Homo sapiens: one gene and its partners. The protein of the gene in region 2 purifies or fractionates together with the protein of the main gene of each other region. This does not show direct contact. Each region holds a gene or a part of one and is shown on either strand. Other genes may lie near its edges.

The links.
Region 1: the proteins of PLAAT4 (region 2) and PLEKHG3 purify together in Homo sapiens (affinity purification with mass spectrometry; one large-scale study listed by BioGRID and IntAct). This does not show direct contact.
Region 3: the proteins of PLAAT4 (region 2) and RNF135 purify together in Homo sapiens (affinity purification with western blotting, with the first as the bait; one study listed by BioGRID). This does not show direct contact.

The regions. Positions count from the first base shown.
Region 1 is NC_000014.9:64,731,924-64,735,423, forward strand, and holds part of PLEKHG3 (pleckstrin homology domain-containing family G member 3), read left to right. Parts: intron 1-171; coding exon 172-258; intron 259-503; coding exon 504-537; intron 538-879; coding exon 880-978; intron 979-3,500. UniProt on the Homo sapiens protein: Plays a role in controlling cell polarity and cell motility by selectively binding newly polymerized actin and activating RAC1 and CDC42 to enhance local actin polymerization.
Region 2 is NC_000011.10:63,535,379-63,539,607, forward strand, and holds the start of PLAAT4 (phospholipase A and acyltransferase 4), read left to right. Parts: upstream 1-1,429; 5' UTR 1,430-1,490; coding exon 1,491-1,499; intron 1,500-4,137; coding exon 4,138-4,229. UniProt on the Homo sapiens protein: Exhibits both phospholipase A1/2 and acyltransferase activities. Shows phospholipase A1 (PLA1) and A2 (PLA2), catalyzing the calcium-independent release of fatty acids from the sn-1 or sn-2 position of glycerophospholipids.
Region 3 is NC_000017.11:30,981,039-30,984,538, forward strand, and holds part of RNF135 (E3 ubiquitin-protein ligase RNF135), read left to right. Parts: intron 1-3,500.

The sequences.
Region 1 (3,500 bases), on a different chromosome or scaffold from region 2:
GGCAAGGATCATTGCAGGCACCTCTCAGGGTCAAAGTGAGGAGTCAGGTTAACCTCACAGAGGCCCCAGCATGGCCCCACTTTTTCTCCCTGGGTGGAAGCACTGTCCATGCTAGACAGCTTCAGGCCTGTAATGATAACCACTGGGTCCCTTTCCCTTGGGTCCTCCCAGGCCAAGACAGTGGAGGAGAAACGGAACTGGACTCACCACATCAAGAGGCTCATCCTAGAGAACCACCATGCCACCATTCCCCAGAAGGTGAGTTCCCCCAGCTCCTGACTGTGTGCAAGGAGAATGTGCTCCTCTGAGCCAGCTCTGCAAGGTCCATTGGGGGCTCACCTTCTGGATTTGGGCTCCAGTGGACAGTGAGTGTCAGTACAGCAGATGCCCCGGGCCTTGGTGCAGCACTGTGGGGTGTCCTCGTACAGCAACAGTGGGTCCTATGGGCAGGGAAGGCCGGCACATGGTAAGGTAATAACCAGGTGTGTTTCCTTCCCCTTCAGGCCAAGGAAGCCATCTTGGAAATGGATTCCTATTGTAAGTGTACCCTTTTCTGCCTGTTTTGTCCCTAATCGTGCACATTGCTAGGTCAGGCTGCATCCTGGGGAAGCTTTACCTGATAATTTTATTCCAGGAGCAGGGAGGGCGGGGGTCTCCTGTTAAGGGCTGGGGGGTGAACTACATGATTAAGGATGCTCTCCTGCTGAGCGGTGGGACTCTCAGTGCCTGAAGCTCCCAGCTGGAAGATGGAGGGAGCTCTGGAGGCTCCTGGCCCTGGAGCTGGGTGGGTATAGAGGTCTGGCTGGTTATGGACAGGGTCTAGGGTAGGCCAAGGCCAATTGGGAATCAAAAGCTTGATCGTCTCTCTCCTGGGTGCAGATCCCAATCGGTACCGCTGCAGCCCAGAGCGGCTGAAGAAGGCTTGGTCCTCCCAGGATGAGGTGTCCACCAATGTGCGCCAGGGGCGCCGGCAATCTGGTAAGAGAAGGGCTGTGGAGGCAGGAGGCCTCTCCCTCACACCCTTGCCCAGACTGGGGACCGTCTGCGGCAGTGTCCAGGGCTGTGGCTCTCACCTCTGCGGAAACCCTGGGAAAGGCTAGAGCGGGGCTGGACACACACCTGGGGCTCATCCTCTCCCTGTGCTGGTGCTCCCCACACCAGGTACCCCTGGGCCCTCGTTGCCTACCAGGTCTGGAGCCCACCTTTTTCTTACTTTTTTCTTTTCTTTTCTTTTCTTTTTCTTTTTTTTTTTTTTTTGAGAGATGGAGTCTTGCTCTGTTGCCCAGGCTGGAGTGCAGTGGCTCGATCTCGGCTCACTGCAACCTCTGCCTCCTGGGTTCAAGCGATTCTCCTGCCTCAGCTTGCCAAGTAGCTGGGACTACAAGCGTGCACCACCACACCCAACTAATTTTTGTATTTTTTAGTAGAGATGGGATTTCACTATATGTTGGCCAGGCTAGTTTCGAACTCCTGGCCTCAGGTGATCCGCCCGTCTCGGACTCCCAAAGTACTGGGATTATAGGTGTGAGCCACTGTACCCGTCCAGCCCACCTTTTTCAAGGCCCTAGGAATACTTGCTCGCTCCGGCCTTGGCACCCCTTCTTAGCCCCCTCCCTCCTTTGCCTCTCTGGAATACCAACACCAAGTCATTCAGGAGTGACACTTGGACATGGCGGATGGGCCCAGCCCAGTCCTGGAACAACCGAGCAGAAGCAGGACCCGGGGAAAACGAGTTCAGTGGCACCAAACCCAGACAGGAAATATTTATTTTGGGTCTCAGGAAAAGGTTCCATTTTCCTCCCTTGAGTTTTCTTCCATTCCTGGACTTGCTAGGGTGTTCTTGGATTATTGGAATGAATCGTCTATTTGAAAAGAGAAAACCTTGCTTTTATTCTAAACTCCGTGGTGATGGGTGTGTGTGTTTTCAAAATTGGTTTTTTCGTTGCTATTTAGTGCAAGGCCCAAGGACAGGTCTGGCTTAAGCCAGGTGTCTGCCAAACATATACCCAAGGTGGGAGTTGGGGTGAGAATTGTCTTTAAGACCCTGGGAGAGAAGGATTCTAAAGTGACTGAGAGTGGTGTCCTGGCTTGGGTCCCACAGATGTGTTGGGTTTTGATTGGTGATGACCTGTGGGTCCCCTGAATGTGTGTGTGGATTGACATGTGGGTGTTAGCCTTCGAGAAGGTGGAGCAGTGGCTTATAGAAGGCTTTTGTGGTTTTATGTTGTTGGTATTGCTCTGGGTGGATCTTGAGCCCTAGGCCACCTTGCTATGGTTGCAAAAGTTTTATGGTTTTTATAGTTAAAAGCTCCAAATAGGGGTGTTGCTTTCTTCTCTCTAGCCCTCTTTCTTTTCTCTTCTCTTCTCTTTTCTTTTCTTCTCCTGTAATTCTCTTCTTGTCCTCCTCAACTTGCCATACCTTAAAATTTGAAGCTTCTAGCACACTGATGTGTTCAGCAAGTGATAACGTTGGTGGTAGTGATAGTAGCTCTATCCTAGTGTTAGCATCGAAACTTTAGCTATGGATGTACAACTCTTTGAATATACTTAAAGCCGTTGAATTGTACACTCTAAATAGGTGAATTGTATTTGAATTATATTTCAATAAAGCTGTTACAAAAAGCCCCCAAACTTTAGGTGTCCAAGGCACTCAGGAAATGAGCCATTTTAAAGAGCTGAAGTTTCCACATGGCTGAGATTTTTAGCCTGTAAATACTAAGAGTTGGATTTTTTCAAAAAATATTTAAAAAATGTTTTAACAGTTATGAAATTCCCTCCCTCCCTCCCTCCCTTCCTTCCTTCCTTCTTTCCTTCCTTCCTTCCTTCCTTGTCTGTCACCCAGGCTGGAGTGCAGTGGCACCATCTCTACTCACTGCAACCTCTGCCTCCCGGGTTCAAGTGATTCTCCTGCCTCAGCCGCCCGAGTAGCTGGGATTACAGGCACGCGTCACCACGCCCAGCTAGTTTTTTTTTTGTATTTTTAGTAGAAACAGGGTTTCACCATGTTGGTCAGGCTGGTCTCGAACTCCTGACCTCAGGTGATCCACCCGCCTCGGCCTCACAGAGTGCTGGGATTACAGGCATGAGCCATCCCGCCTAGCTGAAATAGACATCTTTCTAAAGCATGTTTTGTACTCTTGAGCCTTTTAAAACAGAAGGTGCTGGCCACCGTTGAACCTTTCCTTTTCTGGAGTTAATGCTACAGCATCACTTAGGGTGTGTGAACTGCCAGATGCTTGAGGGGCCCCAGAGGCTGTGGGTTGCCATAGAGACAGCCTGTGTTTGGTGTGTCGTGCCCCTCTTCACGGTTCTTCTGTAACACTGAAGTATTTGTTTTCATTGGTCTAAGTATGCTTGTCTGTAGTAGCCCTTCTTCCCCTCCTGTCTGTTAGAAAGCGATCGTTCAGGCCAGGTGTGGTGGCTCACTCCTGTAATCCTAGCACCTTGGGAGGCTGAGGTGGGAGGATCACTTGAGTCCAGGAGTTCAAGACCAGCCTGGA
Region 2 (4,229 bases):
TTGAGACATGGTTTCACTCCAGTTGCCCAGGCTAGACTGCAGTGGAGCAATCTCAGCTGACTGCAGCCTGACTTCTGGGTTCAGGCGATCCTCCCATCTCCGCCTCCCAAGTAGCTGAGAGTACAGGCACATGCCACCATGCCCGGCTAATTTTTTTTTCTGTATTTTTAGCAGAGACGGGGTCTCGCCATGTTGGCCAGGCTGGTCTTGAACTCGTGGGCTCAAGTGATCCACCTGTCTAGGCCTCTGGTTGGGTGTGAAAATATGGCCCAGTTCTGGCCAATGGAGAAGGGAACAGGTCATCTGGGGAACTGTGGGAAAGACTTAACTCCCTGAAAAAAAGACAAATGAGAATTATCTTTCCCTCCATCTTTTGGGCATAGCCAGGTAAAAATGGGCCACTCAAGGCTGCTACAGCCATGGGAGTCCCTGCAGGGCAACAGTGCAGACCCAGGACCAGTGCAATGGAGACAGCCTGCTGAGTCCTTGGTGACCTTGGTGAGCCACTAAACCCAACCTGAGTCACCCTCTTCCTGCCTTTCTGTTACCGAGACAATGGGTGTCCAGGCTGTTGAAGCCCTTTTGAGTTTAGTTCTGCTTCTTGCACCCAAATGCATTTTAATGGGGCCATGAGCTCCCAGGCTCCACATGGTCTAAGGTACCCCTCACCTCCAGGGCATCCCCATGGAATGAAACACCCCCTCTGGCCTTCTCCCAAGACTTCTGGCCCAATATTTTCTGGGTGTCTTTACAAGACAATGTCCTATGGGGTGCACTGGGGATTGACATCTCCCTGCCTCCGAATGCCTCCCCTTCCTGGAGTAGGAAGAGCTGCCCAGGGTTCTTTTTAGAAGAGACCTTTATTTTGGCCAGGTGCGGTGGCTCACACCTGTAATCCCAGCATTTTGGGAGACCGACGGGGAGGCAGATCACAAGGTCAAGAGATCGAGACCATCCTGGCCAACATGGTGAAACCCCGTCTCTACTAAATATGGAAAAATGAGCCAGGCATGGCAGCAGGTGCCTGTAATCCCAGCTACCTGGGAGGCTGAGGCAGGAGAATCACTTGAACCCGGGAGGCAGAGGTTGCAATGAGCCGAGATCGCACCATTGCACTCCAGTCTGGGTGACAAGAGCGAAACTCTGTCTCAAAAAAACAAACAAACAAACAAACAAACAAACAAAAAAGAAAAAAAAAGAAAAGACCTTTATTTCTCAAGCAAGGGCAGAAATTCAGGGCTCCCCTTCGACTCTGGCTGCTCCCAAGGTGGCTTTAAAGCACCAATGAGTCCATGGCTTGTGTAAGAAATGATTAGTCCTTCCATCTAGAGAAATAGCTCCTTTTTAAACAGTTGTCTCTTTTAAACAGTGTTTAGTATTTAAGTGAGGTTGAAACAGTGTCAAAAGGAAAGTGAAAGTGAAATTCTCTCCTTCAGCATAAAAGCTGATCCACAAACAAGAGGAGCACCAGACCTCCTCTTGGCTTCGAGATGGCTTCGGTAAGTTTCCCAGGGCTTTGCATTACTGACTCTACAGCAGTTGGGCAGCTCCCCCTAGGAAAGGCCTCAGTCCAGGCTCCTGGCCTTGGGCACACAGCTCCAGAGCTCGTCTTTAGAAGGCTGTCATGGAAAACTGTATTTGTCTTTTAAAAGTGCATCTGCCCAGCTGGACAGGGAGTCCTCTGGGCAGAGTCCACCTCCTCTGCGTAACTGGCACAGTGCGGGGAGCCCGGGACTCCCATGTAGTAGAGAGCTGTGGGGTGCCGGGTGTCAAATCTACCTCAGCCTGAGGAGAAGCCAGAGTGTGGGCAGGTGGGGGACTCTGGGTTGTGGGAAGCAAGCAAATCCCAACATCGTCTGCTTCTGCTGTGACTGGGGCTCAGTCCCTTCTCGGCCCCAAACGATGCTTTCTCTCTCCTCGTTCCTCTGTGGCATCATCCAGCCTTCTAAGGTGCATTCTAATCTCAGCAGCTTTCTGAAAACTGAAATTTCTCCTCCTATCAGCCCAGATGTACCGATTGGCAGAAGCTCTAGGGAGAGCAGGCTGAGCTCGGTGGTGTGTGACTAAAAAGGAACAGCGGGGCTCAGGCTATTACTAGAAACAAAACCATTCCGGGAAGGAGTCCTGCAAATTCTGGAGGGCAGCCCACTCCAACAGCACCACCTGATCCTGGGGAAGGGCTTTACTGCTGCCAAAACAAATCAGGGCTTTTAACAGGGAGCCCAGGCCAAAGCTCATATCTCACTGGCCACCAGCTGAGGTTGCCAGTACCTTGACTGTGGTTTTAGACATTCAGCATTGCAGTTAAAAGCCCCTCTCTCTCCCCACATGGAAACCATCTCCTGTGGTGCCCTGACATACAGAGGAGGAGCTGGGAGGGAGTCCTGGCCCTGCTCCTTTCTCCTCCCTCTTCCTTGTCTATTTCCTTGCCCCATTCTACGCCAGGCCCTTCACTGGGTCCTGGAGGTGCAGGGAGGGAGGAGCACACAGGATCCTGCCTGCCTGGAGCTCACAGCCCAGAGGGGCACAGGGAGGCACAGGGAATTGCAGCTCAACTTGACCCCTGCAGAGAGCAGCAGAGGCCCCCGGGGACCCAGGTCCTAGGAGTGGGGTGGCGGGTCAGCTGAGCCAGGCTGGGGCCATCAGGGCAGCTTCTCAGGTGAGGGGGTTTGAGGGAGGGGAAGAGGAAGAGTGGCTGCAGGGAAGTGATGGAGGCAGGGAGAACCAGATGTGCAGAGCAGCAGAGACCAGAGCCAGGGCAGTAGTGAGGGGCTGGGATGTCACTCAGTGGGCCTGTGGGTGCAGAGCCCAGGGAGGGAGAGGAGGGTGAGGAAGGGCCAGTCAGGAAGGGCCTGGGAGCTGCCCACAGGGTGTGTCCTGGGCCCTGAGGTCAGAGGACGGTCATGGCCAGATGTGCCCTTGGGAAGGCCACCATGGGTTCTGAGGAGTTGGATATGGAGTGGCAGGGACAGGAGGCAGGGGCTGGTCAGGGGGTTGTGGGGGTCACAGAGGCAGGCATGGGGCTGCCTGAACCAAGTCAGTGGATGGGATATTGACAAGCACACCAACAAGGAGAAGCTTCCGGAGTCCACATTGATTGGTTTTAGTGACTGGATATTGGCATGAGGAAGAGGGCAAAGGAGAGCAGACCCCAGGTCTATGATGGGACATCCTGGGATGAGGGAGGAGGAGGCTGTCACCCACTGAGGACAGGGACAGAGAGGGTGAAAATGGAAAAATCCTCCAGTCATGAGGCTGCTATGCCCTGGGGCAGGACATGGAGAAGTGGGAAGGAGGTGAGGAAGGGGAAGAAGGTGGCCAAGACAGGAACCAGGGTGAGGGGTGTGCAGGGAAGAACCAGCTCGGCCTCCTTCCAGCTGAGTGTTCTCAGGAAAGCCCTGCCACCTCTCTGATCCTCAGTTTCCCCATCTGTGCAATGGGATGATCATGCCTTCCCCTGGGGCTGTGGAGATGGTGCAGTTATTGTAGGACAAGTTCCCACAGAGGCCTGTTCTGTGAGTGCAGAGCCCCCTCAGTGCTGGGAGCTGGGGGGCCCCACAAGACCCCACTCAGGTCCCAGCAGGATGCTGTGAGCTCCTGTCTCCCAGGGTGTCATCTCCAAGAGATAGGTGTCCTGAGGCTGGATGGGGCAAGGTCTGAGGAGGAGGTGGCTCTTGGGGCCATGGAGAGGCACAGGGCAGGAGTGATGAGGAACTGAGGGTCAGTCTGCAGAGGGCGGAGAGCTCAAGACTCACCTTCCCAGCCTTGCTCCTGGCCTCAGTGAAGGTGCTGGTTCATGCAGGCTCTTGAGTCGGCCTACTGAGGAGCATGTGTACAATGCACACATGCACACACATCTGCATCCTCAGCATGCACACACACAGCACACACATGTCACACATGCGCCCAGACGGTCCTTCTGTCTCCCATCCCACAAGATCATTCTCCAGGCTTCCAGCCCCCAGTGCCCCCACTGAGAAGAGCCTCTGAAAGTGACAGCAGGGCTGAGGATCTCATGGGGCTAGCAGCTGATGAACATCAGCAAGGCGTCTCCAGGATGAGCTGCAGCTCCCCCAGCCAGGGTCTCTGCTGTTGCCTAGAAGGCCGGGTACTCCATCTCTGGCTTTTCTGTTGCAGCCACACCAAGAGCCCAAACCTGGAGACCTGATTGAGATTTTCCGCCTTGGCTATGAGCACTGGGCCCTGTATATAGGAGATGGCTACGTGAT
Region 3 (3,500 bases), on a different chromosome or scaffold from region 2:
GATCACGCCACTGCACTCCAGCCTGGGCACCATTGAGCACTGAGTGAACGAGACTCCATCTGCAATCCCGGCACCTCGGGAGGCCGAGGCTGGCGGATCACTCGCGGTTAGGAGCTGGAGACCAGCCCGGCCAACACAGCGAAACCCCGTCTCCACCAAAAAAAAACGAAAACCAGTCAGGCGTGGCGGCGCGCGCCTGCAATCGCAGGCACTCGACAGGCTGAGGCAGGAGAATCAGGCAGGGAGGTTGCAGTGAGCCGAGATGGCAGCAGTACCGTCCAGCTTTGGCTCAGCATCAGAGGGAGACCGTGGAGGGAGAGGGAGAGGGAGAGGGAGAGCGTGGTGATGACTCTTAACCGATTTTTAATTATTTCAATCATTTTGTTAAATTTACCTGATAGAATTCTGAATTCCTTCTCTGTTATCTTGAATGTCTCCGAGTTTTCTTAAATCAGCTATTTTGAATTCTCTGTCTGAAAGGTCACATATTTCTGTTTCTCCTGAATTGGCTCTTGGTGACTTATTTAGTTAGTTTGGTGGGGTCATGTTTTCCTGAATGGTCTTGATGCTCGTGGATGTTTGTCAGTGCCTGGGCATTGAAGAGTTAGTTATTTATTGTAGTCTTCACAGTCTGGGCTTGTTTGTACCTGTCCTTCTTGGGAAGGCTTTCCAGGAATTTGAAAGGACTTGGGCGTTGTGATCTAAGCCGTATCTGCATTAGGGGGCACCCCAAGCCCAGTAAAGCTGTGACTCTTGCAGACTACTAGAGGTACCACCTTGGTGGTCTTGTATAAGATCCAGAAGAATTATCTGGATTACCAGGCAGAGATTCTTGTTCTCTTCTCATACGTTCTCCAAAACAGTCTGTCTGTGTGCTGAGCTGCCTGGAGCTGGAGGTGGGGTGACAGAAGCACCTTGTGGCCATGACCACTAGAACTGCACAGGGTCAGACCTAAAGCCAACACAGCACTGTGCCTTACCCAAGCCCCTTGTTAACCACTATCTGGCTACCACCTATATTGACTCAAGGACCTAGGGCTCTATAATCAGCAGATGGCAAAGCCAGCCAGGCTTGTGTCCTTCCCTTCATGGTGGCACATTCACCCAGGCTCGGGGCCGGTCCAGAGACCCATCTCAGCACTAGGACTTGCCTAGGAGTTGCAGTCCTTGTGGCCTAGACTGCCTTTCAAGTTTATTTAGAGCCCCAGAGCACTTCAGCCCACAGTGGAGAGGCTTGCCAGAACTCAGGTTCCAATAACTGGGGTGGGTGATTTGATTCCTCTCTGGCTAGGACTGATCTAAATGCTCCCTCTGTGGGTAGGCGTCAGCTGAATTCAGCCCAGTTTTGCTTTGTGAAGCGACAAGGCAAAGTCTTTCTATTCTCTTTATCACCATGCTCTCCCTTTCCTGAGTGCACAGATTCTCTGTGCATGTGGCCCCTGACACATGGGATATGGGTTGCATTGGCAATTCAAGACTGTTTCTCCTACCCTCTTCAGTGCCTGTTTCAGTAATATAAAGTTAAAACCAGGTACTGTAAGTACCCCTGATTTTTGGTTCTTATGAAGGTGCTTTTTTGTGTAGTTGTTAAATTTGGTGTTCTTGTGGGAGGGATGATCAATGGAGCCTTCTATTTGGCTATCTTGCTCTGCCCTCTCCACCCTTAAGTCTTCTGGCTTTCCCCCACTTCTCTCTGGCCCTAAACCATTTTTAAGTATACAGTTTGGTGATATGAAATACATTCACAATGTTTTGAAACCATCACTACCATCATTTCCATAACTTTAAAAAATTTTAAATTAACATGACTGGTTCTTCAGGGTACCATAACTCTTTTCAACTCGCAAAAGTGGAATTCTAGGAGGACATTAAAATTCTCCATTTCCTCTTCCCCCAGCCTCTGGCAACCATCATTCTAATTTCTGTCTCTGATTTTGACTACTCTAAATACCTCATATAAGTTGAATCATACAGTATCTGTCTTTTTGTGACTGGCTTATTTCACTTAGCATAATGTCTTCAAGGGTTATTTATGTTGTAGCATGTGTCAGAGTTCCCTTCCTTTTTAAGGCTGAGTAGTATTCTATTGTATGTATATGCCACTTTTTGCTTATTCATTCATTTGTCTGCAGATACTTGGGTTGCTTCCATGTTTTAGCTAGTGGGAATAATACTGCTATGGGCATGAGTTTATGAATCTCTTTGAGATCCTGTTTTCAATTCTTATATATCCGGAAGTGGAATTGCTAAATCATATGGTAATTCTAATTACATATATGTACATATATATATATATATATATATATATATATATATTTTTTTTTTTTTTTTTTGAGATGGAGTCTGGCCCTGTCGCCCAGGCTTGAATGCAGTGGCATGATCTTGGCTCACTGCAACCTCCATCTCCTGGGTTCAAGAGATTTTCTTGCTTCAGCCTCCCAAGTAGCTGGGATTATAGGTGCCTGCAACCACACCTGGTGAATTTTTGTATTTTTAGTAGAGATGGGGTTTCACCAGGTTGGCCAGGATGATCTCGAACTCTTGACCTCAGGTGATCCACCCGCCTCGGCCTCCCAAAGTGCTGGGATTACAGCCATGAGCTATTGCGCCTGGCCTATTTTTAATATTTTGAGCAGCCACCATTCTGTCTTCCATAGTGGCTATATCATTCCCACCAACAGTGCAGAGGGTTCCAATCTTCCCACACCATCAACATTTGTTATTTTGGTTTTTTTTTTTTTGATAGTAGCCAACCTAATGAGTGTGAGGTGGTATCTCACTGTATGTTTTGATTTGCATTTCCCTAGTGATTAGTGATCTTGAGTGTCTATTCATGTGCTTATTGGTGATTTGTATATCTTCTTTGGAGAAATAGCTATTCAAGTTCTTTGCCCATTTCAAAATTCAGTTGTTTGTGGGTTTTTGCTTGTTTGTTTTACCAACCAAACAAGCGGCAGTGATATGTTTTTATTGTTGAGTTTTAGAAATTCTCTGTATATTCTCAGTATTAATGCCTTATCAGATGTATGACTTGCAAATATTTTCTTCCATTTTTGTGGATTGCCTTTTTACTCTATTGTTCGTGTCTTTTGATGCACAAATGTTTAAACATTTCATGTAGTCCAATTTGTCTCCTTTTTTCTTTTGTTGCCTGTGCTTTTAGTGACATATACAATAAATCATTGCCAAATCCAATGTCATAAATTTTGCCCTATGTTTTCTTCTAACAGCTGTATTATTTTAGGTCTTACATTTAGGTCTTTGATCCATTTTGAGTTAGTTTTTGTATATGATGTTAGGTAAGGGTCCAGCCATATTCTTTTGCATATAGATATCCAGTTTTCACAGTACAATTTGTTGAAAAAACTGTCCTTTCTCCATTGAATGGTCTTGGCACCTTCGTCAAAAATCATTTAACTATATATGTGAGAGTTTATTTCTGGGTACTCTATTGTATTCCATCGGTCTGTATGTCTGTTTTTATGCCATTACCACAGTAT